Linked DNA regions of Homo sapiens: region 2 is linked to region 1. Evidence: fine-mapped expression QTL. A gene starts in region 1. The other region holds a variant in brackets. All regions are shown on one strand. Distances are between the middles of the regions.

The links. PIP is the estimated chance that this variant, and not a neighbour inherited with it, causes the effect.
Region 2: its variant is the best candidate, but not a certain one, in a credible set for the expression of GNPNAT1 in whole blood (INTERVAL, PIP 0.66).

What each region holds. Positions count from the first base shown.
Region 1 is chr14:52,784,532-52,799,780 of GRCh38, forward strand. GNPNAT1 (glucosamine-phosphate N-acetyltransferase 1) reads right to left here and starts at 7,076. Exons shown (of 6, transcript NM_198066.4): 1 at 6,897-7,076; 2 at 1-133. The coding sequence starts at 119. It overlaps LOC105370500 (a long non-coding RNA gene), which reads left to right and starts at 7,257. Exons shown (of 3, transcript XR_943867.3): 1 at 7,257-7,795. It also overlaps the pseudogene LOC100288978. RefSeq lists enhancers at 6,303-6,392, 6,473-6,562, 6,670-7,183, 7,184-7,698 and silencers at 6,873-6,952, 7,053-7,272.
Region 2 is chr14:52,729,491-52,744,739 of GRCh38, forward strand. STYX (serine/threonine/tyrosine interacting protein) reads left to right here and starts at 676. Exons shown (of 11, transcript NM_145251.4): 1 at 676-1,041. The coding sequence starts at 985. RefSeq lists silencers at 361-820, 891-970 and an enhancer at 4,421-4,715. The variant G/C (reference allele first, on the strand shown) is at 7,231.

The sequences.
Region 1 (15,249 bases):
ACCAAGCCTTCTCCAGGATGTGTTGGGGAAATGGCTGGAGAAAATGTAGCTGTATTCTGACTCCAGTCCACTTCTTTGAGTAGACTTGGGTCAAACATAGGAGTTTCATCAGGTTTCATTTTTCTAGTAAGGTCTAAAATAAAAATTTGAATATTAAGTCACTTTATTTAATAGAAGGAAAATTATGATTGTTGAGAAAGTTAATATAAATTAATGCAATTAGAAGCATTCTTTAGCACATATGCGAGATATTTTACTGCAACCCAGCCTGAATCTAACATTAAATTCCACAACTACAGATAAATAGAAAAATCATGCCTACTATCAGATAAAAAAATGGCTAAGTGACTAAATTAGTAAGTTTTAAACTATAAAATCCCATTTATTATCAAGTCTTTTTTTTTTTTTTTTTTTCAGACAGTCTCACTCTGTTGCCCAGGCTGGAGTGCAGAGGCGTGATCCCGGCTCACTGCAACCTCTGCCTTCTGGGTTCAAGTGATTCTCCTCTTTCAGCCTCCTGAGTATCTGGGATTATAGGCACGTGACACCACGCCCGGCTAATTTTTTTGTATTTTTAATAGAGACGGGATTTCGCCGTGTTAGCCAGGCTGGTCTCAAACTCCCGACCTCAGGTGATCTGCCCGCCTCGGCCTCCCAAAGTGCTGGGATTACAGGCGTGAGCCACTGCGCCCGGCTATTATCAGGTCTTTTAAAACATGTTTTTCCTCTGGGTTGGTGCTACTAAATGAATAGCTGACTTTTCATGGGCTCTTAAATTTTTTACATTATGTTCTTGGATTTTATTATTGAGCCAAGAAGGCATCTGTTTCAACAGGAAATTGCAAGGGGAAAAAAATTTTTTTTAAAAAAGTAATCTCTTAGTCTTACTTGCCAATAAAGAAAACTTTCAGCTGTGCACGGTGGCTCACACCTGTAATACCAACACTTTGGGAGGCCGAGGTGGGCAGATCACCTGAGGTCGGGAGTTCGAGACCAGCCTGACCAACATGGAGAAACCCCCATCTCTACTAAAAATACAAAATTAGTCGGGCGTGGTGGCGCATGCCTGTAATCCCAGCTACTCGGGAGGCTGAGGCAGGAGAATCGCCTCAGAACCTGGGAGGCAGAGGTTGTGGTGAGTTGAGATTGCGCCATTGCACTCCAGCCTGGGCAATGTAAGAGTGAAATTCCCTCTCAAAAAACTTACTGGGCATGTAGCCTTTTTTTTTTTTTGAGATGGAGTTTCGCTCTTATTGCCCAGGCTGGAGTGCAATGATGTGATCTTGGCTCACCACAACCTCCGCCTCCCAGGTTTAAGCAATTCTCCTGCCTCAGCCTTCTGAGTAGCTGGGATTACAGGCACCTGCCACCACGCCCAGCTAGTTTTTTTTGTATTTTTAGTAGAGACGGAGTTTCGCCATGTCAGCCAGGCTGGTCTCAAATTCCTGACCTCGGGTGATTCGCCTGCCTCAGCCTCCCAAAGTGCTGGGATTACAGGTGTGAGCCACCATGTCTAGCCACATGTAGCTTTTTTTTTTTTTTTCAATGAACCATGAATAGAAGAAAATTGATGAACAGGCTCAAATTAATTTTTTTTTTTGGCATTCTCAGAAATACTTTACCTTGGCTATGCTAGATATACACTGCAGGATTTTGTTTTCACAGCAGATTTTCTAAAAATCTGTGGTATGGACCAGGCATGGTGGCTCGTGCCTTTAATCCCAGCACTTTGAGAGGCAGAGGCAGGTAGATCACCAGAGGTCAGGAGGTCAAGACCGGCCTGACCAACATGGCGAAACCCTGTCTCTACTACAAATACAAAATTAGCCAGGTGTGGTGGTGGCCACCTGTAATCCCAGCTACTTGGGAGGCTGAGGCAGGAGAATCACTTGAACCCAGGAGGTGGAGGCTGCAGTGAGCTGAGATCACACCATTGCGTTCCAGCCTGGGCAACAAGAGTGAAACTCCGTCTCAAAAAAATTAAATTAAAATTAAACTGTATAGTGTTTCTCAGTTGCATCTAAGCAGCTTAAAAATAGCTGGTGTTTTTCATGCTATTGAAAAGTGATCATGATATTTCCCCCTCTTTTTTGAACATTTAGAAATGAGCAGGTTCTCACTAGTTGTAATGTTTTAAAACTGAGACTAAATAACAGAGAAGTAACGATAGGAAGGATGAAAAACAAATCATACAAAGCATAAAACTGGGGCCAGGGGGCTTCTGTGCAGCACAGAATTGCTAAAAGAAACAGATGCTTCCCAACAATTAAAAGTTGAGTATTCCTTATCCAAAATGCTTGGGACCAGAAATGTTTCAGGTTTTGGATTTTTTTTTTTTTTTTTTTTTTTTTTTTTTTTCAGATTTGGGGATATTTGCATATACATAATGAGATATCTTGGGGATGGGACCCAAGTCAAAATTCATTTGTGTTTCATATACATCTTATACAGATAGCACAAATATTTTACACAATATTTTAAATAATTTTGTGCATGGAAAAGTTTTTGTACATTATACCAGATGTGGAATTTTCCACTTGTGGCATCATGTTGGCCCTCAATAAAGTTTCAAATTTTGGAGTGTTTTGGATTTTTGGATTAGAGATCCAAAAAAAGCAGTCCCCAACTTATTTCTATATCCAGTTAAAGAAACCATATTTTAATGAGAGAACAATTTGCCCAATAACCTAACCCCCAATTGTTCCTTATTTCATAAGTCACAGTATGCTTTAGGGCAAATATTCTTAACTTTTCCTTAAAGATGGATAATAAGTTTCTGCCTGTATAATCCTATGTAACTATATAAGCAATGCTGCAATATACTAGTTATGGGAAGGTAGTGTGATGTGATGTAACAACAGAAGTTAACACTTGCTCAGCACTTCTTATGTGCCAGACTGTTGAAAGAGCTTTACTAATTCATTTATTTCAACCATCCTACAGGTTAGGAGTGGTTATTATCTACATTTTAACAGATGAGAAAATGTTAAGTAACTTGCCCAAGGTCACAAAATTAGCGGAGCCAGGATTTAAACCTAGGCATAGAAAGAGCATGAGCTTTGGATTCATACCTGGTGTTCAAATGTCAACTGTGTGATATGTACTACGGTAATTAAGCTTTTAGAATCTAGTTTCCTCATTTGTAAAATGGAGATGAAATTACTGGGAGAATTAAATGCATTACTGTATGCAGTCATGCACTTAGCAGTGCCTGGAATACTGCAAGTACTTAATAAGATATATGCTAGTTAGCAATAAATTTAAAATTAAAGTTTATAAATTCTTGTTCATTTTTTTTTACCTTTAATTCATGAATCAGGCACTGTGCTGGTTACAGGAACTACAAAAAGAATGACAGGCTCTTACGTTTATGTTATACCAAAAGTTAGCATTCTTGGGTAGAAAAGAACGTAGTTTATAATGTAGACTGCTGAGAGGTCCCCCCAGCCACACACACACAAAATGATTCAAATTATGCTGCATACACTATACCCAGTTCTAACAATATTAAGGAAAATATAGAAATTGTGATGATCAAGCAGTCATTTCAAATTTAACAAGTTTAATAGCCATTCAAAATAGGTTTTTTGTTTTGTTTTATTGTTTTGAGACAGGGTTTTACTCTGTTGCCCAGGCTGGAGTGCAGTGGTGCAATCATAGCTCACTGCAGCCTCAAACTCCTGGGCTCAAGTGATCCTCCTACCTCAGCTTCCCACATCAGCCTCCAGAGTAGTTGTGACTACAGGCTCATACCACCACGCCTGGCTAATTTTTGTATTTTTAGTAGAGATGGGGCTTTGCCATGTTGGAAAGGCTGGTCTTGAACTCCTGACCTCAAGTGATCCTCCAGCCTCAGCCTCCCAAAGTTCTGGAATTACAAGTGTGAACCAGCATGCTCAGCCAAAACAAGTTTTTAATAGATGAAATTGAGTCCACGTGTTTTAGTGTTTTGTCTAAATTGGACCCTTGAGGTTTTTGTGTGTAATCTCATCTGAATGGTAGGTAGCAACATTGTTTTTCAGGTATGTAGATAAACAGGCTAAGTATTAATAAAGTGAAATGTGTACAGTATTAAAAATGTAAATTCCTCGAGGCAGCACACTATTTAAACATTTTGGTCTTGCTATTAAACATATAGTTGTAAATACAAAGTTCAAAGAAAACTCAAAAGAGAATTTAAATCAACCTTAACCACATTTAACTAGATTCCTTTTTCCTATAAAGTTGTCTGTGTTTACAATAAAAATGTGGTCTAGAAAACATGAAAAATAGGGTTAATAATTTTCATGAGAGGGAAGAAGTATACAGGAAAACAACTAGGATTATGAAGCCCTTAAATAATGAATTTTAACCAGGAAATACTAATATTTTCTTGTACTTTTCTTTGATGAGACAGTCCTTTTCCACGAATGATCATAAAAATAAATAATATTGGCTAACACTTATTGAAAACTTTCTATATGTTAACTCTTAAAAATACAATGAACGATGTATCATTATTATCCCAATTTTACAGATAAGGAAGCAGGCACAGTAACTTGCTCAAGGTTAGAGTGCCAATAAGAACAGAGTGAGGATTCAAAATGAGGCAACAGGGCCAGCTTCAGAAGCCCCTGACCTGTGCCGTTACACAGGGCCCTGCACTTAAGTTTGATACCCTGCTGCCACTGTTTTGAAGTTCTTAATTTTTTAACAAGGAACCCTGCATTTTAATTTGGATTACCACAGATTACGTAGCCAGTCCTGCTAGGTAGTATGACTTCAGACTCTGCTCTTAACCATTACACTGAAGATGCACTAGAGTAGATAAATTCCCTATCTTACTGTTGTACAAGGGTTAAAAATTAAGTCATAAGCAGCACTTAGAACCTACATTTGGAAAATGGGAATCAGACTAGTCAAAATACATTAAACAAAGCATTACAGATTGAAATAAGAATCTATTAACCAGGCAATCAGAAATTAACATCAAAAATTTTTTTATGAGCTATTCTACAAAACAGAGCCATACTGAAGGCCCACTTTAGCTCACTCTGTCCTCAAACCGTAAAATTCTGCTGGTGCCCAACTAAGGTACTGGGCAAAGTGAAGCAAGATATGACTTGAAACCTGGTTCCAAGGGGGTTTAGAACATAATTAAATAAGTAATTTTATATAAATAATCTTTTAGCATCTTCAGGTGCCCAGATATTGCAAAACTAGGAAATTTCTGCGAATAAAATTGCACAGTTGTGTGAAGCGGAATCTCATCATATCATTAGGTTCTTTAAAGTTTTTAGATGAACTTTAAACACTAATCCTCCTTAAGTATTCCTCAGAACCTTTTCTGATTAACTGCTAAATTAGCAGGCGTTTAGAAGACCCGTTTAAGCCTAACCCTAGCCCAATAATGCCTAGTGAATGAATAACGAATAAGACTTACCTGTAGGTCACATTTCAGAAAATCCAGAAGGACAAAAAAAAAAAAAAAAAAAAAAATTCCCAAACTGCCACAATATCGCGGAAAGCATACACCAAATTCATTTTTACTAGTCATCACATCAGTTGAATATTTTTTCACTCAATTGAATATTTTTTAAACAAAACTTCAACTATTTGGCGTCTGAGCCTCTGTATCAGGTTGGAATACGAATGGGGAGAGAGGCTGCTGCTAGAAGCAACCAACGGAGAGCAACAAGTAATAGACACCGGAGATGAAGATTTTAAAAGTCGATCTACAAATTTTAAAAAATACAATCTAAGGCCAAATCTAAACCAGCCTATGTATTTCTCAAGAGCTCCTGGGGAACCTTCTAAGTACAGGTGAATGGGGGAGGGGCGGACTTCGGATTCCTTTATATTCATTTTATAACAATTTCGATAACAAGAATCCATTCTGAATCTATTCCGTTAAAGATTTTTAACACACCTGGCCATATTTATTAAATTGTGTAACTGCATGAATGTTCAAAAGTATTTTCTGATAGTTTGACCTTTACAATCTAGGCGTTATTCCCAGTCTACCGATGAGGAAGCTGGAGCACCTGGAACTCCCAAGACTTGCCCCTTAGGTAACACAGCAAGTAAGTGACTTGGGGCTAGAATCCTCGTTTTCGCATCTTGAGCTCGATTACCATCCTCAACAGACCCCAATCTTTACATCATCATACCATACAGCTAGCGCTCTCTCCCCTATTTAGCAAATCCTGCCTAAATTAATTTCTTAAGATCCATTCTAGGATTCGTTCATGAGGGATTATCCTAACAAAACGAATCCTATAATCGCCCGTTCAATTTTGTATGAAAATTTTAAATTAGTTTGGCTTACATAAACATCAGCTCCCGCAACAGAAATCACAGTACAGTACTCGGTATTTCTAGGGGTAGGAGCCTAGGAAAAAGAGACAAAGAATGTCCCTCTGTACCCTGGGGAAAGCGCCGACCTACTCGGTGCGGAGGTGGTCTTCGGAGCAGCTGCCTCAATGGCTCCGACCACCGTGGGATGCGCCCGGGAATGGGAGAAGAGAAGGGGCCTGGGACGTTCGTGCCCATTCAAAACCGATGGCTGCAGAGAGCGCGACCAACTGTCTCATTTCCCACGCCAAAGTCTGGGGAGCGAAGTTCCGACCCCAGTCCCAGTTCCAGCCCTGCCAGGCCAAGACCAGCGTATGGCCGGACCGCTGGCCATCATCCTTAACCTCTGCTCCAGGCGCGCGTGCGTTCAACTTCCTGGGAACCGCGCTCCACACCATGTGCACCCAGCTGGCGAGGATTAACGCCCAGCTCCTCCACACAACACCCCCGGGGGCCTGGCCGGGGCACCAGACACACCTGTTAGATAAACCTGAGGGCAGGCCCGCCCCAGCCCCCAGGACACACGGTCCTGCTCTCGCGCCCCGGCCCCGGTCCCTCCTCACCCGTAGAGGCCCTGCGGTCGGCGCTCCTAGCCAGGCGCGTCGGACTCTCCCCCACCAGTGTGCACAGCACCGGATCCGGATCCGGCTTCAGCGCCAGCCCCACCTCCTCCTCCACCGCCCGCGCCACAGTTGGGAACCGCGGCCCAGACGTGGCAGCGCCAACGCCTCCACCTCGCCTCTGCCCCCTCACGCAGGGCCGCGCGCAGGCGAGCGGAGGCGGAGGCCAAGGCGCCACCCGCCCAGGCCCGGAGAGCGAGGGGCGGGGCCCGGAGAGCGGGGGCGGGACCAGGAGGGCGAGGGGCGGGGCTCGGAGAGCGGGGGCGGGACCAGGAGGGCGAGGGGCGGGGCCTGAGGCTCGAGTCGCGGCGCCTGGGGCGGTGGCCGCCGGACCAAAGCTGGCCTCTCCCGGCTCCTCCTCCTCGCTCCCCAAGGCCTTTCCCACCGCGTCATTGTCTCGGTTTATCTGCAGATACGTCTACCTAGCAGTCAGCCCAGCAGCGTAAGTGGTGACCAGTGTGGGCCTCTTTGATCCTGAGACCGAAGGCTCGGCCACTGGCCCTCTCCATTTGTTCCTTGTTGCCCTCCCTTCATGATTCAATCCATTAATTAGGACTTTTCCTACCAGCTGGCAGTTCAGAGCTCCGCATCCCCAGGCCTCTGAGTCACAGTTCCTGCCTTCATGAAACTAGGAGTTGGGGCCACTGCATTCTACTCCTTCGGGACTATTGTTTCATTTCTCAGTCCCTCAAACCCTTTATTGGATGAACATGGGGTTAGGACAGCGGTTCTCCACTGCAACAGTTTTGCCTCCCAGGAGACATTTGGCAATGTATGAATCATTTTCAGCCTCTCATCTGGGGTGAGATGTCATTGGAATCTACAGATGGTGGAGGGCACAGGTGAGTAGAGGCCGGGAATACTGCTTCACGCCTTACAGTGCGCAGGACAGCGCCGCACAACAAAGAATTACCTGGCCTGAAATGTCTGGAGTGCTGAGGTTTAGAAACCTTTCGTTAGGAGAAGAAAAGTGACTTTTTTCAGAGCCCCATTTCTGAAGTGTCTTACCTAAGTAGCACTTTGTCCCTATTTTAACAGATGAGGAAACAGAGGTTCAGAGATGTTACATAATTTACAAAAGTCTCATAGCTAGTAGCTCCCCTTCCTTGCCTTGTACCATAATTTTCAATTTATTGAAATCGCAAAGTATTTTATTCTTAAGCAATAGTATTCAAAGAACCCCATAGATCATATACCAGAAATCATATTTTTTGCTCATTTGTGAGATTTAAATTTCAGTTAACTCCTTTACTGATTTATGCTTTCTCAGAACTTCAAACATCAGTGAGTTGATGGCATCCATATCTCTGTTTTTATCTCTGTTTTTACACCCATACATACAAAAGAATATATAGGGCATGAGCAGAATGTGGTGGTATGCATCCGTAGTCCCAGCTACTCCAGAGGCTGAGGCAGGAGGATCACTTGAGCCCACAAGGTTGAATCCAGCCTGGACAATAGAGCAAGACCCTGTCTCTAAAAAAAAAAAAAAAAAAAAAAAGAATATGTAAGGCATAAATAAAATAAACACTCATGGCTGGGCGTAGTGGCTCACACCTGTAATTCCAACATTTTGGGAGGCCTAAGCAAGTGGATCTCTTGAGCCCAGGAGTTTGAGACCAGTCTGTGCAACATGGTAAAAACCTGTCTCTACAAAAAAAAATACTGAAAATTAGGCAGGCATGGTGGCATGTGCCTGTAGTCCCATCTACTCAGGAGGCTGAGGTAGGAGGATAACCTGAGCCCGGGAGGCAGAGGCTGCTGTGAGCCATGATTGCAAGACTGCACTCCAGTCTGGGCCACAGAGCAAGACCCTGTCTCAAAACAAACAAAAATTTAAAAAAATGCTTATGTACACACCACTAATCTTAAGCATATGGCCCTCCCCGTTTTTCTTATCAGACTTCTGGTCAAATGTTTTCAGTGAGTTTATCCTGTACAACAAACTGCTGTATGTTTTATAAATTAGCAAAAAGTGAAACATAAGCAATTCTAAAATCACAGAACACAAGGCTTGTAAGAGGTACCCCCAGAGATCTCATACTTTCCACATATACTCCTCCTTACCCACATTGGGCCATAAGAACCCAATTTCTCCTTAATAGACAAGGTCGATTACTCTGGCCAGTACAGTTAACCCCTTTCTTTGCCTGTAGGTTCACTTGGCAATGAGGAGCCCAAGATAACCAGGAGACAGTCTCAACTTCTGGTTTAATGGAACCATTGGTATGTCCTTTGGTTGATTTTTATTTATTTTTCTAGATTCTTAGAAGAAATGCTGCATTCACCATTATTCTTTTTTTTTTTTTTTTTTTTTTTTTTTTTTTGAGAGGGAGTCTTACTCTGTAGCCCAGGCTGGAGTGCAGTGGTGTGATCTCAGCTCACTGCAACCTCCACCTCCTGGGTTCCAATTAAGCAATTCTCCTGCCTCAGCCTCTTGAGTAGCTGGAATTACAGGTGCGCACTACCACACCCAGCTAATTTTTGTATTTTTAGTAGAGATGGGGTTTCACCATGTTGGCCAGGCTGGTCTTGAACTCCTGACCTTGTGATCCACCCACCTGGGCCTCCCAAAGTGCTAAGATTACAGGTGTGAGCCACCGCGTCTGACCAACAACAATATTCTCATTGGCACAAATAAGGCTATTACGTGGATAAACATAGATGTCAGTGATTGAGTTGAGAAGTGATTCAGGAACGTTGGCCTGAATGAGAAGTTTAAGAATACCTTGGCCGGGTACCATGGTTAACACCTGTAATCCCAGCACTTTGGGAGGCCAAGGCGGGCAGATCACGAGGTCAGGAGTTCAAGACCAGCCTGGCCAACATAGTGAAACTCTGTCTCTCAGAAAAAATACAAAAATTAGCTGGTGTGCTGGCACATGCCTGTAGTCCCAGCTACTCGGGAGGCTGAGACAGGAGAATCACTTGAAACCTGGGAGGCAGAGATTGCAGTGAGCCGAGATTGTGCCATTGCACTCCAGCCTGGGCAACAGCGAGACTCCATCCCCCCCCAAAAAAGAATACCTTAGCCAATTTATTTCATTTATATTTTCCTCTTAATGTTTGCACAGGAATTAGATATAACAATCCATGTCTAATTAAGTATAGAAGAGTTGTTTCACTAGGTATTACAAGTTCCAAGTGATAAGATATTATAATTTTAAATTAGCCACATTGTTTCTTTCTTAGTGGTATATAAATTAATGGCGTGTCATACAATGGATGTGTCTAAGATTGGATGAAATATGGTACAGGCCAGGCACGGTGGCTCACGCCTGTACCATTCCAGCACTTTGGGAGGCTGAGGTGGGTGGATCATGAGGTCAAGAGATCGAGACCATCCTGGCCAACATGGTAAAATCCTGTCTCTACTAAAAATGCAAAAATTAGCTGGGCGTAGTGGCACACGCCTGTAGTCCCAGCTACTCAGGAGGCTGAGGCAGGAGAATTACTGGAACCCAGGAGGTGGAGGTTTAAGTGAGCCGAGATTGCACCACTGCACTCCAGCCTGGCAACAGAGCGAGACTCTGTCTCAAAAAAAAAAAAAAGGTAATATGGTACATACTTAATATGGTCTTAAAGTTATAATTCTCTGTTATGGTTTTAATGTCCCCTCCAAAACTCACATTGAGATTTAATTGCCATGGTACAGTATTAAGAGGGTGAGGCCCTTAAGGGGTGATTAGGTCATGAGAGCTCTTCCCTCACATAATATGGATTAATGCTGTTACCGTGGGAGTGGTTTCCTGATAAAATGGATGAGTTCAGCTCCTCCCTGTCTTTCTTTCTCTTACACTACTCCTTCCATGTGATGCCTTCAGCCATGGGGTGACCCTCAACAGATACTGGTACTATGCTCTTGCACTTCCCAGCCTCCAGAACTGTGAGCCAAATATGCTTCTTTTTATTATGAATTACCCAGTCTTGGTATTCTATTACAGTAGTAGAAAATAGGCGAAGACATTCTCTAAACATGTTTATAAATTATTTCATTTGATCCTCATATGAATCCTGTGACATAAGGTGGGCACTATTATTTCCATAATGCAAGTGAAACTCAAGCAATTTTCCTTTTCTTTTTGAAACAAGTTCTCACTCTGTTGCCCAGGCTGGAATATGGCTACACAATCTCAGCTCACTGCAACCTCTGCCTTCTGGGCTCAAGCAATCCTCCCACCTCAGCCTCCCGAGTTACTGGGACTACAGGCGTGCAGCACCACACCCAGCTAATTTTTTTGTATCTTTATTAAAGATGAGGTTTCACCACATTGCTCAGGCTAGTCTCGAACTCATGACTAGCCATGAGTTCAAGCCATCATGTGCCCACCTCAGCCTCCCAACTGCTGGGATGATAGGCATGAGCCACTGTACCCAGCTATAATTTTTCTTTTTTTTATGAGTGAGGCTGTGTGCCTGTTCTCATGCTGCTAATAAAGACATACCTGAAACTGGGTAATTTATAAAGAAAAAGAGGTGCTCATGCCTGTAATCCCAGCACTTTGGGAGGCCGAGGCAGGTGGATTACCTGGGGTCAGGAGTTCAGGACCAGCCTGGCCAACACAGTGAAACCCCATCTCTACTAAAAAAATACAAAAATTCACCGGGCGTGGTGGTGGGTGCCTGTAATCCCAGCTACTCGGGAGGCTGAGACAGGAGAATTGCTTGAACCTGGGAGGCGGAAGTTGCAGTGAGCCAGGATCATGCCATTGCACTCCAGGCTGGGTGACAAGACTGAAATTCCGTCAAAAAAAAAAAAAAAAAAGTGAGCTGGGATCATGCCATTGCACTCCAGCCTGGGCAACAAGAGTGAAATTCCATCAAAAAAAAGAAAGAGGGGCCGGGTGCGGTGGCTCATGCCTGTAATCCCAGCACTTTGGGAGTCTGAGGCGGGTGGATCACAAGGTCAGGAGATCGAGACCATCCTGGCTAACACAGTGAAACCCCGTCTGTACTAAAAATACAAAAAATTAGCCAGGCGTGGTGGTGGGTGCCTGTAGTCCCAGCTACTCGGGAGGCTGAGGCAAGAGAATGGCGTGGACCCGGGAGGCAGAGCTTGCAGTGAGAGGAGATCGCGCCACTGCACTCCAGCCTGGGCAACAGAGCGAGACTCTGTCTCAAAAAAAAAAAAAAAAAAAAAAAAGAAAGAAAGAAAGAAAGGCAGAAAGAGAGGAAGAAAGAGGTTTAATGGACTCCTAGTTCCACATGGCTGGGCAGGCCTCACAATCATGGTGGAAGGCAAAGAAGGAGCAAAGTCGTGTCTTACATGGCAGCAGGCAAGAGGGCATGTGCAGGGGAACTCCCCTGTATAAAACCATCAGATTGGCCAGGCATGGTGGCTCATGCCTGTAATCCCAGCACTTTGGGAGGCTGAGGTGGGCAAATCACTTGAGTTCAGGAGTTCGAGACCAGCCTGGCCAACATGGAGAAACCCTGTCTCTACTAAAAATACAAAAATTAGCCAGGTGTGGTGGTGGGCGCCTGTAATCCCAGCTACTCAGGAGGCTGAGGCAGGAGAATCACTTGAACCCAGGAGGTGGAGGTTGTAGTGAGCCGAGATCGCGCCACTCTACTCCAGCATGGGCAACACAGTGAGACACCATCTCAAAAAAAAAAAAACCTATCAGATCTCATGAGACTTATTCACTATCACGAGAACAGCATGGGAAAACCCACCTCCATGATTCAGTTACCTCTCACTGGGTCCCTCCCATGACACGTGGGGATTATTATAATTCAAGGTGAGATTTGGGTGGGGACACAGAGCCAAACCATATCACTTTTTTTCTTTATAGACATTTGAACTTAAGAACTCAATAAAGCTGGCCACAGCTCACGCCTGTAATCCCAGCACTTTGAGAGGCCGAGGTGGGCGGATCACTTGAGGCCAGGAATTTGAGACCAGCCTGGCCAACATGGTGAAACTCTGTCTCTACTAAAAAATACAAAAATTAGCCAGGTGTGGTGGTACGCGCCTGTAGTCCCAGCTACTCTAGAGGCTGAGGCAGGAGAATTCACTTGAACCTGGGAGGTGGAGGTTGAAAAAAAAAAAATAACAACCTTGAAATATTACAGAAATATAGAACAAAGAGTGATCAGTCTCCTTATTTCTGCCTTCAAAGATAACCACCGTGTTAGTCCGTTTTCACACTGCTATAAAGATACTACCTGAGACTGGGTAATTTATAAACAAAAGAGGGTTTAATTGATTCAGTTCCACATGGCTGGGGAGGCCTCAGGAAACTTACAGTCACGGTGGAAGGTGAGAGGAAGCAAGGCACACCTTCACAAGGCAGGAGGGAGACAGAACAAACAGGAAACTGCCAAACACTTTCAAAACCATCAGCTCTCGTGAGAACTCCCTCACTATCACAAGAACAGCATGGGGGAAACCGCCCTCATGGTCCAATCACCTCCCACCAGGTCCCTCCCTCAACACATGGGGGTTGCAATTTGAGATGAGATTTGGGTGGGGACACAGAGCCAAACCATATCAACCACAGTTAACAGCTTGATAGATGTTTCTTCAGACTGCCTGGGTTTCATTTTCAGCCCTTCCATTTAGCTGACCACCTTGGACAAATGATTTGTCCTCACATTGTCCCAGTTTTCTCATGTCAGTGTAATAGTACAGGCTTGCAGAGTTTGATGAAGGTTTAATAAAATAATATATGTAAAGTGTTCAGCATTGTGCCTGACATATAGTACGTGCTTAATAAATGCTGGTTTGTGTACATATATTTGCATATAGTCAGAATAAGTCTGCAATAACAAACAACCTCCCAAATCTCTGTGGCTTAACACAATAAGTTTTTTTTTGTCTTACACCAATTGTTAGGGCACTTTCTCCATGTAATCACTCAGGGATAGAGGCTAATGGCAGTTCCACCCTATTCTGGTCAAAATCTGAAATACATGACATCTTTAGTGACCAGAATAGTGAAAAGAGACTGGAAAATCATGCATGGAACTTTTACTGCCTGATCCCATAATTGACATACTTCCCTTACGCTCACAATTTATTTGCCATGTTAGTAATTGTAACCCTGCCTAGCTACCAAGTTAGCAGGGAAATTCAGAGTAGAGAATATTTGGTGACTGCTTAACCTCTGTCACAATCCACATGTTTTTTCCCTAGCATCGTATAATACTGTCCAAACTCTGTTGTAATTTTTTTTTTTTTGGCATGTGACATTGCTTTCTTTTAATTGAAGTGAAGGCAAAACCTGGTCACGTTCAGAGATTAACAGCCTCATCCAGGTGGTCAAGTACAATTTTGTCTTTCTTGGTTAACCAGGTCCTAATTTCAACGTATTTCCATATGTTCTTTAAAATCACCTGAAACTGCCCTGCGCAGGCTCACACCACGGCTCTGTACCAAGGGCTTGGACCCGCCTGCAGCCAGACGGCATCTCACTAGATGTCATCATCATCAAAGAGATCTTCAAAACCATTTAAAAAGTCTACATGAACAGCCTTTTCATTAGTTGCCAAGTCCATCAAGAACCTGGTGCTGCCTCCCGCCTCGTCCAGGTCCACGTAGGGCCCGGCGCCCTTGGAAACATCTCATCCACGGCCAGCTACATCTTGGGCTGCGGCGCTCTAGGCCCACTTCCGGCCACGGGGCCGCTTCCTATTTTTCTATTTTTTAACAACTCCCCATATTAATATTCATTCACTCATTGACTGTTAAGCCCTTCTATGTATCAGGAATTGTTCTAGGTACTAGGACATATCAGTTAAGAAAACATTTGTTAATCCTTGCCTTCATGTAGTTTATTAGATTGTGAACAGATCAGAAAAAAACATGTAAAAAATTATAAAATGTTAGGTGATCAAAGTTATGGTGAAAAACAGGAAAGGGAAGAGGCAGAAGGAGTGTTGAGGTGCAGTGTTAAATAGAGTAGTCAGAGAAGACCTCTCTGAAATGTCATTTGAGTTAAATTCTGAAAGGTGTGAGGAAGTCAGCCTTGTGACTATGTCTAGAGGAAGAGCATTCCAAGAAAATAAAACTGTCAGAGTGGCTTGGTGATGCCTGAAAATGCATTTTACTATTTTTGTACACGTCTGAAATTTTCCATGAAACAAGTTAAAAAAAAAAGTAGCCCTGGTAAAAGGGAGGTTGAAGCGGGCGGATCACTTGAGGTCAGGAGTTGGAGACCAGCCTGGCCAACACGCTGAAACCTCGTCTCTACTAAAAATACAAAAAAAAAAATTAGCCGGGCGTGGTGGCGGGCGCCTGTAATCCCAGCTACTTGGGAGGCTGAGGCAGGAGAATCGCTTGAACCCAGGAGGC
Region 2 (15,249 bases), 55 kb before region 1:
TATAATAATGGAAGAAATTTTACAGTATTATATACAATTTACTGAGTCAGCTATCAGTTCCTTTTTCTGATTTTTTTCTAGTTGCCATTCTTGATATTTTCTAGGTAATCTAAACTGAGTTGTATTTTCAAGTACTCTTAAAATACTTTAAAAAATTTTAAATTGAGCCGTTTAATTCTTTGCTTAAAGGTGATGGGTATTTTATTTTCTGTATGGCACCACGTGATTTTAAATTGAACTCTTCATTTATTAGTCATTTGGTTATAAACTCAGCATAGATTGCGCAGAATTTTGAGAGGGGAGAAACTATAGCTTTCCTTTCGGATGCCACTGGTGGGTAGCCTGTTTTGCCTGTTTGTTCTTATGTTAAAGAAGGGCTCTACGTCCTGTCTGGAAAGGGCGGAGCTGGCTCGGACCGCCCCACTGCCTTTCCCAGGACCTTCACTCGTCCTGTCCCACCGCAGCCCCGCCTCCTCCACGCCGGGTGAGCTGTGGCCTAGCAGCATCCGAGGCTCCGCCCCCCCCACCCCCAAGCGTCTGCGCTCTAGCGAAGGGGCGGAGCAGGGCGGTGGCGCGCTGACACCTGGCGGCGGCGGAGGGCGGGCAGAAGGCGAGCGTGGGCTGGGATTGGCTGAGGCGACGCGGGTGGAGGGGGCGGGAAGGAGGCGGGGAGACGGTTGTCGGGCTGGTTCCTGTGCTGGATCCTGGGCGGCCTGAGGGGTACGGAGACTCTGGGGGAGGGAGACGGCAGCGGCATGGCGGCCGGGTGTAAGACGCCCGACCCTCCTCTTCCCTGTCTTCGCCGCCGCCGCTGCTGGAGTCACTGGGACCCTGTAGTCTGCGTGTGTTAGTTGTAATCCCGCCGCCCTCCTGTCAGCCCTCCGCTCCGCCGGCCCTCCTTCCTTCCGCCGCCGCAGCCAGCCCGAGGGTCGGCCGGCTGTGTAACACTCTCCCACCCCACCCACCAGCCCGCGGGCCAGCACCATGGAGGACGTGAAGCTGGAGTTCCCTTCCCTTCCACAGTGCAAGGAAGACGCCGAGGTGAGTCGCTCCCGTGGCTGCCACGCACAGGCCTCTCCCTGTGGCTCCGGCCGAGGGGCGACCCCAGTCCCCAACCGTCTTAGCCGCCACCTGTACGGGCGCCCTGCCTCCTAAGGGCGTCCCGGGACCTCTGAAGCCGAGCGGTCGGCTCCAATCCCCACTGAGTTGCTCGTCCTCTCCAGACCCCGCGGAGGGGCAGCGTCTGGTGTACTTACATTTGAGAAGAGGAAAAGCAATCCCTTAGTCCCTAGGCTTGGCATCCAGGACTGACCTGGAGTAAGGTTCCTCTTTTATTGTCAAAGTAACAAGAGAGCGAAGTTGGTTTAGTCTCCTTTTGAGGAATATCTGTGGTGTAAACGATTCACTTGTGGGACACATGGCCCCACATGTGAAATAGACTCGGCGCCTGAAGTTTGGAAGCGCGCCTTCGAAAAGTTTCCCAAAGTTTTTTGTTTGTTTTTAGACAAAGCTATGACCCGCACAACAAAGTGTCTCAAAGCTAGCTCATCTTAATCTGAGAACTCTTAATCAGAAATCTTGACCTTTGGAGGAAAATTAATATTGAAAGTAAAATACTATATACCTTTTCTCCTGGTTTCTAATTTGTGGCTATTTTTACTCCACCTTAGATCCCTGCCTGCTGTTTCTACTCGGATTTTTTTTCATCTGTTGCTAGTTTAACATTTTACGGCATTGCAGACTACTAAATTAGAATTTTCTGGAGGCTAAATTAACAAGACGAAGATACTCAGCTATACTTTAGTAGGATTAAGAAAGAAAATCTAACATCGCTAGTTAAAAATACCTTTAAAGTAGTTGGGAAAAATAAAGCCCTATTTTTAGGAGACCATTCAATTTATTCCGAATATTTATTCTATTGAATATCTTCATTGGAGGTTCACTTTTTTTTTTTTTTTTTTTTTGAGACGGAGTCTTGCTCTGTCGCCAGGCTGGAGTGCAATGTGGCGCGATCTCGGCTCACTGCAACCTCCGCCTTCCGGGTTCAAGCGATTCTCCTGCCTCAGCCTCCTGAGTAGCTGGAACTACAGGCGCGCACCACCACGCCCAGCTAATTTTTGTGTTTTTAGGGGAGACGGGTTTCACCATTTTGGCCAGGGTGGTCTCGATCTCCTGACCTTGTGATCCGCCCGACTCGGCCTCCCAAAGTGCTGAAATTGCAGGTATGAGCCACCGCGCCCGGCCTAGGTTCACATTTTTGTTTGGAGGGCTCTCTTGTGGTATTGATGCTTGACAATTACATTTGTTTTAAGAGTAGAGACTTTGTTTGTGACTATCACTGTTGCAAAATGTAGTGCAGTGGTGTGATCTCGGTTCACTGCAGTCTCGAACTCCCATGCTCAAGCCATCCTTTCACCTCAGCCTCTGGAGTAGCTGGGACCATGCCGGGCTAATTTTTCTTTTTTTTTTTTTTTGTAGCGATGGGTTTTTTCTCCAGGCTGGTCTCGAACTCTTGGCCTCAAGATCCTCCCGCCTTGTCCTCCGAAAGTGTTGGGATTACAGGTGTGAGCCACTGCACCTGGCCCAAGAATATACTCATGGTTTTTTTTTTTTTTTTTTTTTTGACACAGAGTTTCACTCTTGTTGCCCCAGGCTGGAGTGCAGTGGCGCTGTCTCAGCCCACCGCAGCCTCTGCCTCGGGTCCCGGTTCAAACAGTTCTCCTGCCTAAGCCTCCTGAGTAGCTGGGGATTACAGGCGCGCACCGCCAGGCCCAGCTTTTTTTTTTTTTTTTTTGAGACAGAGTCTCACTCTGTCGCCCAGGCTGGAATGATCTTGCAGTGGTGCGATCTGGGCTCACTGCAAGCTCTGCCTCCCGTGTTCACGCCATTCTCCCGCCTCAGCCTCCCGAGTAGCTGGGACTGCAGGCACCCGCTACCACACCGGGCTAATTTTTTTGTATTTTTAGTAGAGACGGGGTTTCACCATGTTGGCCAGGATGGTCTCAAACTCCTGACCTTGTGATCCGCCTGGCTTGGCCTCCCAAAGTGCAGGGATTACAGGCGTGAGCTACCGCGCCCGGCCAATATACTCTTAGAAAACAGGAGGTCATATTTAGGCTAGTTATAAAAATGAATTTATACTTAACATACAATAATGTGAATGAAGAGTATGCTTTTATTTATTTATTTATTTTTTTGAGACGGAGTTTCACTCTTGTTGCCCAGGCTGGAATGCAGTGGCGTGATCTCCGCTCACTGCAACCTCCGCCTCCCACGTTCAAAAGATTCTCCTGCCTCAGCCGCCTGAGTAGCTGGGATTACAGGCGCCCGCCACCACTCCCGTCTAATTTTTGTACTTTTAGTAGAGACGGGGTTTCACCATGTTGGCCCTGCTGGTCTGGAACGCCAGACCTCAAGTGATCCGCCTGCCTCGGCCTCCCAAAGTGCTGGGATTACAGGCTTGAGCCACCGCGAAGGAGTATGCTTTCATATCCTCAAAATGATTCAGTAATTTCAGCACTTAACTGCAAGCAACCTTACAAATAATGTAGAGGAGTCCCACATTCCAGGTGAAGAAATTGTACCTTACTGAAAATAAGTGATGTGCCAAATTAACAACACAGTAGCACAAGACACAGAAGGACCTCGGCCTCCTAATTCATTGTTCTTTTTAATACACTTCAATTCTTCCCTGCCCTAATCTTAAAAATTCTAGTTTAAAATTTTCCCGGACTTTGCATTTAATCTGTTACTGTGTATATCATTATGTATGCCTTATTCCTGCAAAACTGATAAATTCTTGCTGGGAATATATACCTGTCTTTTCTGTGTGGGACTTGAAAACACACTCTTTTTTTTATGCTACCAGATGTGTGGGGGTTTTTCCATACCAAGCAGTTTTCCAGCAGGCATGAACTGAATGTCCCATAATTCAATTCTGACACATATGTACCTGAAGTTAGTCAGATCCCACAGGTTAATGGCTCAGTCCCGCAAGGCTGCCCCCAACCTCAGATGGTAATCACAAGTAGTAGGTTGTCACCTATACACTCCTGACTGACTGTAAATCAGGGTTCCCGTTACTCCCTCCTTGGTTCAGTTAACTTGCTAGAGTGACTTACAGGACTCAGGGAAGTACATTTACGGGTTTATTATAAAGGATACTACAAAAGATCAGTGAACAGCCAGTAGGAAGAGATGAATAGGGCAAGGTATGGGGGAAGGGGCACACCACCATCCCAGTGTCACCAGTAGAGTCATGATTGCAAGCTGTCCAGGTTCTTGGCGTTTTGAACAAAGAATTGGACAAAACTCCAAGCAAAGAAAGAATGAAGCAACAAAAGAACAAAAGCAGGGATTTATTGAAAACAAAAGTACACTCCACAGTGTGGGAGCTGCCCTAGCAGCACTCCCCCCCGACCCCCGCTGCTTTACCGAATCTTCTTGGGTCCAAATACCCCCTAGAACTTTCCCATTGGCCATTCCATGCTCACCTCATGTAAATGAAGAGGTGGCTTGCAATTGGTCTGATTGGTTGCCAGACCCACCCCCACATCAGTCCGCTTGGTTGTGGACAGCGACCATTCAGTGGCTAGAGTGAAGTTACAAAGTTGCAAACGAAGATTCCACCCGCAGTCAGTCTGATTTGTTGAGGACAGCCAATTTCCCGTCTACTGTGCAGAAAAGGTAGGTGGTTTGCAACGGGAGTAGCCTCTGGTCCTTTTGTTACTTAGGCGTGGAAAGTTAGGGTTTTCCCTTCAAGTTAGTTCTGGGAAGTCGGGGTGAAACAGCCTTAGATTCCCTGCCTCCAGACCCTATTCACCTGCCTCACTAGCACCTCCAGTGTTTTCATCCAGAAGCTCAACAAATCTTATTCAACGGTTTTTATAGAACTTCATCTCCATCCCCTCCCATAGAGGTGTGTGTGTGTGTGAGGCTGAGAGTTCAACCCTCTTGTCACATGGTCTTTCTGGTGACTGGCCCCACCCTAAATCACTTCATTAGCATAATCAGGTTTGATCAAAAATAGTGGCTCATAAATAACCAAAGACACTCCTATTAGAAAATTCCAAGAGTTTTAGGAGGACTGTGACAGGAACTGGAGAGAAAGACCATGTATTTCATATTATATCACAGGGACAGAGGTAATGGTTAAAGCTAGTGGATAATGATGCAAGTATTGTCTGCTGAAAGCCAATTCGTTCCGTATTTCTTAATATTGCATGTTTGGTATCTTTTGGTTGCAAGCAACAAAAACGAATTTAAGAAAAAGAAGAAGTAATTAAATCCGGCCGGGCGTGGTGGCTCACGCCTGTAATCCCAGCACTTTGGGAGGCCGAGGCGGACGGATCACGAGGTCAGGAGATCAAGACCATCCTGGCTAACACGGTAAAACCCCGTCTCTACTTAAAAAAAAATTAGCCAGGTATGGTGGCGGGCGCCTGTAGTCCCAGCTACTTGGGAGGCTGAGGCAGGAGAATGGCATGAACCCGGGAGGCGGAGCTTGCAGTGAGCCGAGATCTAGCCACTGCACTCCAGCCTGGGAGACAGAGCGAGACTCCATCTCAAAAAAAAAAAAAGTAATTAAATCCAGAAGGGTAGTGGTGCAGCTAGTTTCAAGGATTTGACCAAACCCAGGTATTATAAAGCATCAGAACTGCCTTTGTCTCTCATGAGTTCTTATCTCTACTTTCTCTCGGAGTCTCTGCTTTCTCTCTGGCTTCTCCAAGATGTGAAGCTTGGCCATCTGGGGTCACACCTTTATGAGCTTGGTTATTGAGGAATAAAACTGAACACTTCCAGCTTCTGTGTTTGAAATCTAGAGGAATTGCCCAATTTAATTCATGTTCCCACACTTTGGATCAGTCACTGTAGCCAGGAAAGGGCAGATACAATGAGGGGCCCCATCTAGGTCATATCCCTAATTCCTTGGCTAGAGGAGTGAAGTTTATTGTTGGTAGCCCTCCCACCAAAACCATAGGAACATTTCCACAGGTAGAGGGTACTTTCTGGGCTGATAAAACTATACATAGGGGCCACATAAATAAACTATTAAATAGGAGCATATAGTTATTCATAATAAACTGACTAATAAGCACTGTTAATTTTCTAATCTCCAGTGAGATAATGTAAAGTGTCAAATGGTCTTAAGTAGTTAGAGTGATCAGCCAGCATTGTTTCTTTGACACAGGGAGCACTACCTGGAAATCCAAATTACAGACCAAATTTAATAAAAACTGAATTCAAGCAGAGAGTTCAGGGAATGCTTTTAATGTTAATGTGATCAAGCTATGATAGGTTGATGATTCTGTCACCTCTACAAGAATATTACTTTCACGTTTCTTGAAATATTGGTATTCTTTGTATAGGACAGTGCTAACAAAAATTTAGATCAGTCAGTTTGTGAAAAGATTGTTACTTTTTTTGTTTAAAACTTTTTCATGAATTTCCATTGTTTTGAAGATGAAATTTAAACCCTTGACATTATTTCCAGGGTCCTGTATGGTCTGACATCTGCATACCTCTCTAACCTCATTATGAGCTACTCTTCTTGCTCCTTTCTCTGTAAGCCCTAGCCATATTTATCTTCTCTCAGTTCCTGGAATGCTTTAATTTCCACCCCCCGCCTTCAGAGCCTTTATGTTTGCTATTTTCCCCTGCCTTGGCTGCCAGCACCTTCCTTACCCTCACCTAATTAACTGCTTACCCTTGGGTTAGATCCCACTTTAGGCAACATTTCTTCAGAGAAGCTTTTCCTGTTTGCCAGTTTCTCTAACTCCTTTCCTCATCCTCTAGACTGGTTCAATTCCCCAGCTACTATGGCACTTGGTACTTTAATACTTACCTTTGTAACATTTAACAATTTTTGGTCATTGTCTATTTTCCATTTAGACTGAACCTTTCATAAGAGAGCTTAGATATTAGGAAGAAGGAGTAGCTGATAGTACCAATTTTTAAGCAAATTGGTTGTAGCTGGGGCTATTGGTTTTATAATTTAAAAGTTAATGTTTTATCTTCTCTTCTGACAGAAAGTGAAATATTTATTTCCATTGCAGTTTAGCAACTTTCCATGTTTCCCTTTCCATTTTTCTTGTGAATCCCGTAGTACAGGATCAAAGATAGGAATTATTTAACATACATGGCTGAGGATTCCTTTTCTAGCTCCTTTATTTAGAATGGTGCTTTTTAACCCTTACTCTAGAGTAAGGAATTTTTTAAAAATACTGATGC[G/C]TGGACCCTACCAGCACCTATTGTAGTTTAATTTATCTGAATGAAGCTAGATGATTCTAATGTTCAGTCAGGTTTAAAAATTGCTGGTTTAGAAAATATCTTACTTGAGTACTCTTCTGCCCCTCCAGTCCCTGCCCACCTTCTCTTTTTATTTGAGTGAAACATTTTCTTTTCTCCTTTGATTTAAGCAAAGCTCAAGCTTGGTGTGGGAATGAAAGGAAAAGGACTTTGGAGGGATTTACCTATTTTTTCTAGGAGAGAAAGTGCAATACTAACTTTTCTGTTTTGTGGAATGTCCCAGTGCAAGTCTAGTATTCTGATGTTTTTTTTCTTCCCCAAACTGTTGCCCCCCACCTCCAGCCTATGTACAATTTGTGTTTTATTTTAGTATTGTGTATATAGGATTCAGCACTATCCTCAAATGTATGAACATATCCCCTGTGGATAAGGGGGGACTACTGTATTTGTAAAAGTTCATATTTCATATTTCAATGCATATAAGAATTATTTTATCTAATGGTTACAGTCTATATCCTTCATTGATGTGTTTATTTGAGGGTCTTTGAACATTTTTGTAACTTTTCTCTATCCAAATGCAGTTTTATAGATCATTTTTATGGAAAGGAAGGAGATAATTCGGAAGGATGTTTTAACATGTGGTACTTTCTACCTCATGTTGATCGAAAGATTTTCACTTGTGAATTAATTTGTCTCAGAATCATGGTGTTTCACAATAGAGGGTTATTTTGGTTTATCTGGCTTGCCTTGGTTTGGTTAATGTGGTTGAACTGCTTGGCTACTCATAAAGTTTGGGAAATTGATTTCTACTAATTAATTACAATAGTAACTTAAAATAGATCATTGCTGGTGATATGGAGATGCCTCCATTAATACCACGGTTTCTAAAATGATAGATTTCAGGAGTAGTGTGAGCAGGCTGAGATTAAGAATTAAGTGTGATAGTGGCAAGACTTGGTTATTAGACGTGTGTTCAGACGGATGTGTGGTAGAAGAAGACTATGAGCATTCAGACTTAAAATCTTGGTTAGTAAGATCCATAGACAGGCAGGGTTTTTTTGTTTGTTTGTTTGTTTTAACAGGTTGGAGTGCAGTGGCAGGATCTCAACTCACTGCAAGCTCCGCCTCCCGGGTTCACGCCATTCTCCTGCCTCAGCCTCCCGAGTAGCTGGGACTACAGGCGCCCGCCACCATGCCCGGCTAATTTTTTGTATTTTTGGTAGAGACGGGGTGTCAACCATGTTAGCCAGGATGGTCTCGATCTCCTGACCCTGTGATCCACCCTCCTTGGCCTCCCAAAGTGCTGGGATTACAGGCGTGAGCCACTGTGCCCGGCCAACAGGCAGGTTTAAGGTTTGTTCTGTAGGTGGTAATCTGGGTTAGGGCAGCAAAGAAGGTGGATTCTGAGATCAGCATCTGATGATAACACCAGGAATAGTTCCAAATGAACTTTTCTGTGAGAGAAAGCTTTCTAGGTTTCAAAGGATCCATACCTATTGCAGTAATTACTAATGTTCTCTGAAGAAGGCTTCTTATCTGTCCTGTGACTAGGAATAATTTTTCATTCCCTCCTACTATACAACTTGCTTTTCCCTCTTATAATATCTTCCATATATATATATATCTCAAGAGAGTCTTTCATGTTGTATTACATATAACCTTATGGAAAGCTCAAAAGTTCTTTGAAGCCTCTTGTTTTGCTAAAAGGTTCAGGTAAATTTTGCATTCTATCCCATATGTGCCTGTTTGTTTTAATATAAAAATTGTTTAAATTAGTAACCAGTGAAAATACTGTTTCTCCCTAAAGAATTTTTTTGATAAAATTGATACTTCAGTGGCTTTGAGTGTCTTTTGGCATATTGCCAAATGAAGGTGTTGAGGAAATGCCACTCCAAAATATGACACCTTGATATATTGATTACTTTAAGTTGGAAACACTTGCAAAGTAGCAAATGCAAAGAAACACTTTCTCTGAACTCCTGTTACCTACCTAAGGACAGATCCTCCAAAAGAAGCTCAGTTTGCTCCTAGGGAGTTTGATCAACCAGGGAAGATTGTCTCTTATCACTGGAGAGGAGAGTAAAAGTCAGCACCACACCCAGACAAACTGACACAAAGTATCATCTATTATTATTCTAAGGGCCCATTTATCTTTCTCCAGAATTGTTCTTCTAAATTGCCTGTATACCTCTACCCCCATGCTATATAAAGGGTATATAAACTCCTAAATATCACTTTTTTTTTTTTTGTATACACGTTTCTTTCCTGTGATACCCCCATGCACATAATGAATCTGTATACCTTTTCTCCGTTTAGTTTATTTCATAGACTGGTTTGAAATATCACGGATTTTGTTTGTTTTTGGTATACACTTTTTAAAAATACCACTTTTTTTTTTTTGGTATACACTTTTCTTTCCTGTGATACTCCCATACACATAATAAATTTGTATACATTTTCTCCATTTAGTTTATTTCATAGACTGTTATCGAATCCTGATGGTAGAGGGAAAGTCTTCCTTGCCTTACACAAGTATTTCCCAGAATATATTTACACCATTCCTTGATATGTGTTGCCCTGTTTTTTTTTCTTTAATTACACAAAATTTAGTGATTTCACTTTAGATAAATTCAAAAGTACTCATTTCTTTAATTGATTTTCTTCTTTATCACAGCTCTGACAAGTTGCTTCAGGAAGATAAGGCTGGCTGTTAGACTACTTGAGAATCTTTTAAAAAGAAAAAAGTCAATAACATTTAGTGCAGTAGATCTCTGAAATGCATCTATTTTGTGCTTATTCTGTGTCAGGCACTGTGCTTATCATTAGGGGTACCATGACTAAAAAGAGTATTTGGCCTAAAGTCTTTAAAAACTGTTTTCTTTTTCCTTTCTTTCTTTTTTTTTTTTTTTTTTTTTTTCGTTGAGATAGGGTCTGTCTCTGTTGCCCAGGCTGGAGTGCAATGGCACCATGATGACTCACTGCAGCCTCGACCTCCCAAGCCCGAGTGATCTTCCTGCCTCAGCCTCCCAAGTAGCTAGGACCTCAGTCATGCACCACCACCGCACCTGGCTAATTTTTTAATTTTTGTAGAGATGAGGTCTCCCTATATTGCCCAGGCTGGTCTTGAACTCGGGCTCAAGCTATCCTCCTGCCCCAGCCTTCCAAAGGGCTGGGATTGCAGGTGTGAGCTACCATACCTGGCTAAAAAACTCATATATAAAAAGATTACCATAACACATTGGTAAGTTAAAGAATCTAGGCTGGGCGCGGTGGCTCATGCCTGTAATCCCAGCACTTTGAGAGGCCGAGGCAGGTGGATCATGAGGTCAGGAGTTCAAGACCAACCTGGCCAAGATGGTGAAACCCCATCTCTACTAAAAATACAAAAATTAGCCAGGTTTGGTGGTGGGCGCTTGTAATCCCAGCTACTCAGGAGGCTGAGGCAGATAATTGCTTGAACCTGGGAAGCGGAGGTTGCAGTGAGCTGAGATCGTGCCACTGCATTGCACTCCAGCCTAGGCGACAGAGCGAGACTCCGTCTCAAAAAGAAAAAAAAAGTATCTAGTAAACAATTACATTTCCCTCATTGCTGGCTTAGAAATTACATGCTTTATTTCTATTCTGTTAATATCCATAAATTAGTCATTATTTTATGCAGCCAATATTTGTTTAATTGTAACTGTATGTTTGCCGTAAAGTTCATTCTTACATTGAAAGACTGTATAGTATATTGATTCAGAGAATGAACTCTGGGTTCAGACTCTCTGGATCCAAAATCAAGTTACTTAGGTTCTCTATGACTAAAATAGACAGTGATAGTATCCCTTCTTCAAAGAACATTTTAACTTTTTTTCTTTAAAGATATTTTTCCGAGCATATATTCTTAATTAACAGTTGTTTTTGTCCTGCCACTATGAATGAATTATTTGTGTCCTCTGGCTTCTGTTCATGCAATTGAGAAGTCAGTGTCCATCTGATTGTCCTTCCTTTGTGTGTAATCTGTCTTTTGTCTAGTTGATCTTTTTTAATAAAGGTAAAATTTATATAGTGTAATGTACAAATAGTAAGTGTGCAGTTCATTGAGTTTTGATGAACATACACTAATCCACCCCATCAAGATACAAGAACATTCTATTAGCATAGAAGGTTACATCTATTTCCAGGCATTTCCTCTCCCATTCCACAATAGGAAACCAGATTTCTATCAACATAGATTAGTTTTCCTTGCTCTTGAACTTGATACAAATGGAATCATGCAAATGGACTCTTTTGTGTGTGGCTTTCTTCACTGAGCATAATGTCAATGAAATTCATCCATGTTGTTGTGTTTATGAGTACTTCGTAGACTTTTATCCCTGAGTACTACTATTCCTTTGTATGAAGAGACCATAGACATTTGAGTTCTTTGAGACTACAATAAATAAAGCTGCTATAAATATTCATGTATAAGTCTTTGTGTGGATATATGTTTTTATATATATATATATATATATTTTTTTTTTGGTAAAGCCTAGGAGTGGAATGGCTAGATATTATAATAGGGTAGGTGTATGTTTACCATTTCATTTTACATTCCCACCAGCAATGTGTGAGAGTCCCAGTTGCTCCACATCATCACCAGCATTTGGTGTTGTCAATTTTTTTAACTTTAACCATTCTAATGGTAGGTAATGATATCTTTTGATTTTACTTTTGAGTTTCGTGTGTGTGTGTATGAGAGATGGAGTCTCACTCTGTCACCCAGGCTGGAGTGCAGTGGTGCAATCTCGGCTCACTGCAGCTTCCACCTCCCAGATTCAAGCAACTCTCCTGCCTCAGCCTCCCGGGTAGCTGGGACTACAGGCGTGCCACCTCCATGCCTGGCTAATTTTTATATTTTTAGTAGAGACAGGGTTTCACCATGTTGCCCAAGCTGGTAAACTTCTGAGCTCAAGTGATCCGCCTACCTCAGTCTCCCAAAGTACTTGGTAATTTACAGGTGTAAGCCACCGCACCTGGCCTATTCACTGATTTTTAATTTCAATTATACTTCTTATTTCTACATATTCTGTGTTTTTAAAAATCAATTTCTTAGTCTGGTCATATTTTGATACTCTAATTTCTTTAAATTTTTTATATTTTTCGTTATTGCTTATAATATCTGCAGTTTTGTAAGTGTAACTCAGTTGTTTCTGCTTCCTGTGGTGGCTCATTTCCTGTTTTTAAATTAGTTTTTGATTGTGAGCTTGTTGGGACTTTATCTGTGTGAATTATTTCTGATCTAGGTTTAAGGTGTGTTTTTCTAGAGAATATGCATTTGCTTCTTCCAGGAATCCAGGGATGCAATCTACCCAGGACCACTTACATTAAATTCTCACTTGGCCTCACAAAAGTAACTGAATTCTAACCCCAAACTTGAGTGGATGCCAGATTGTGGTTAGGAAGACCCCACTCCACCACTACCAATACCTACCCAGAGCCAAAGCTAGGAAGGACAAGAGTACTCACTTCTGTGGGATGAGTTGAGTTTTTGTTTTTCTTTCTTTCCCTAGTTTATCTTTCACTGAGGATGTTGCCTTTGGGAGTTCTAGCTTTTTGGTCTTGATCTGAGTTCGACTTTGAGCAGATCATAGACTTTGTCTTATGTTTACAAGTACGTTTCCACTTAAAATAAGGCCGTAGTGAAGATGTAGAACAACTAGAAGTCCCATACATTGCTGGTGGGAGTGTACAGTGGTTTTACAAAACTTTTGGCAGTATCTAGTAAAGCCAAACATAGGCCTACCCTGTGTCAAAAGACAAAATTACAACAAATTTAGCTTAAAAATCTAACTCACTTTTATTAGTGGTTCATGAATCAGGCAGTGTGTCATCAAAAGATTTAGAAAAGGCATTTCAGTGTGCTGAGCAGAGGAAGTTGAATTTATAGGCAAAATCTAGCTAAATAAAGCAGAAATGAAACAAAAAGTGGATTGGTCATTTCAAAGTTAGTTTCTTTATAGTATTAAAACACAGGGGACTTCCTTATGCTGGCTCAGGATAACTGGCCTCCTTCTGATTGATTGCTATGAATCTTTTGATTTTTTTTTTTTTTTTGAGATGGAGTTTCACTGATGTTGCCTAGGCTGGAGTGCAATGCCACGATCTCAGCTCACTGCAACCTCCGCTTCCAGGTTCAAGCGATTCTCCTGCCTCAGCCTCCCAAGTAGCTGGGATTACAGGCTCCCGCCACCATGCCTGGCTAATTTTTGTATTTTTAGTAGAGATGGAGTTTCACCATGTTGGCCAGGCTGGTCTCAAATTCCTAACCTCAGGTGATCCACCCGCCTCAGCCTCCCAAAGTGCTGGGATTACAGGTGTGAGCCACCGCGCCCGGCTTTTTGATTTTTTTAAACTGTCATTACTCGGGGTTTATAGTCTACTACTATATTGCTGAGAACAGTTTTCAAGATTAAAAATAAAAATGTTTTCTGTTTCTCTTAGTTAAAAAAAAAAACCTGTCTCTCATTGTAGGATTATTATTCTCTCTTTTCATTATAGATGTATACTATTTCTACCTTCTGTGTTAAAAATACTTTTCTGGGCCGGGGGCAGTAGCTCACTCCCGAAATCCCAGCACTTTGGGAGGCCGAGGCGGGCAGATCACGAGGTCAGGAGATCAAGACCATCTTGGCTAACACGGTGAAACCCCGTCTCTACTAAAAGCACACAAAAAAATTATGGCGTGGTGGTGGGTGCCTGTAGTCCCAGCTACTCGGGAGGCTGAGGCAGGAGAATGGTGTGAACCCGGGAGACGGAGCTTGCATTGAGCCGAGATCGCGCCACTGCACTCCAACCTGGATGACAGTGTAAGACTCGGTCTCAAAAAATAAAAAAATAAAAAAAATACTTTTCTGACTTAGAGAATCTGGGTGAAGGGTAAATGGAATTCCTTGTACTATTTTTGCAACTTTTCTATAATCCTAAAATTGTTTCAAAATAAAAGGTTAAAAAAATATTTTCCAGACTACTTCAGAAACCTAATTACTAATAATAATTCTGAGTTTTAAGCAACCAACTTAGAAACTTTTGGAATGCAGTCAACCCACTGACAAATGAGGACTATCTGTACTATAGTATTTTTTTAGACGGGGTCTCAGTCTGTCACCCTAGCTGGAGTGGTGGGGTGATCTCAGCTCATTGCAACCTCTGCCTCCCAGGCTCAAGCGATCTTCCCACCTCAGCCTCCTGTGTAGATGGGATTACAGGCAGGCTCCACCATGCCCAACGAATTTTTTTGTATTTTTAGTAGAGAAGGGGTTTCACCCTGTTTCCCAGGCTGGTCTCAAACTCCTGAGCTCAAGCAATCTGCCTGCCTCGGCATCCCAAAGTGCTGGGATTACAGACATGAGCCACAGAGCCTGGCCTTTTAGTCTATTTCGATTCTTCATTTCAATTCACTATACTTTTTTTCTAAGTTTTAAAATATTTTTTATCTTTTACCATTGACATTTTGTGTTGTTTTACAGCTTCTTTATATTGGTCTGCATTCCAAAGACAAAATGAAGTCTCTTATGTTTTGTGATATGTGTTAAAATAATTGAACTAGACAAGAATGTTAGGCCCAAGTGAGATGAAGGAAAGGCTCTTTGATAAGCATTTGGCATTTTAGATCAGAGATGGCAAGTACGTATGACATAGCATTCTTCTTTTATCCATTTCAGATATTATTTGTTGATCAGACACTCTTCTTCCTGTCTTGGACCACACAGTGTTTTAGGTATCTGCTGTCAGTTGATTAGAGTTGGCATGAGAAACAAAAAAAATCTATTGGCATCTCTGACTTAGAAGATCAGTTTTGGGAGAATCTTCTGGAATATCTATTCTATTCTTAAGTTTAATGAGTAATTTCATCCATTTTATGAAGTAACATAACAATTCTGGAAGCCTAGTTATTTAAAGAATGCTTTAAGCTTTGTTTCTTGTCACTTCAATTTTCAGATGTTTGTGAAACCAAGTCTGCTATTTTAATAAAATGTTCTT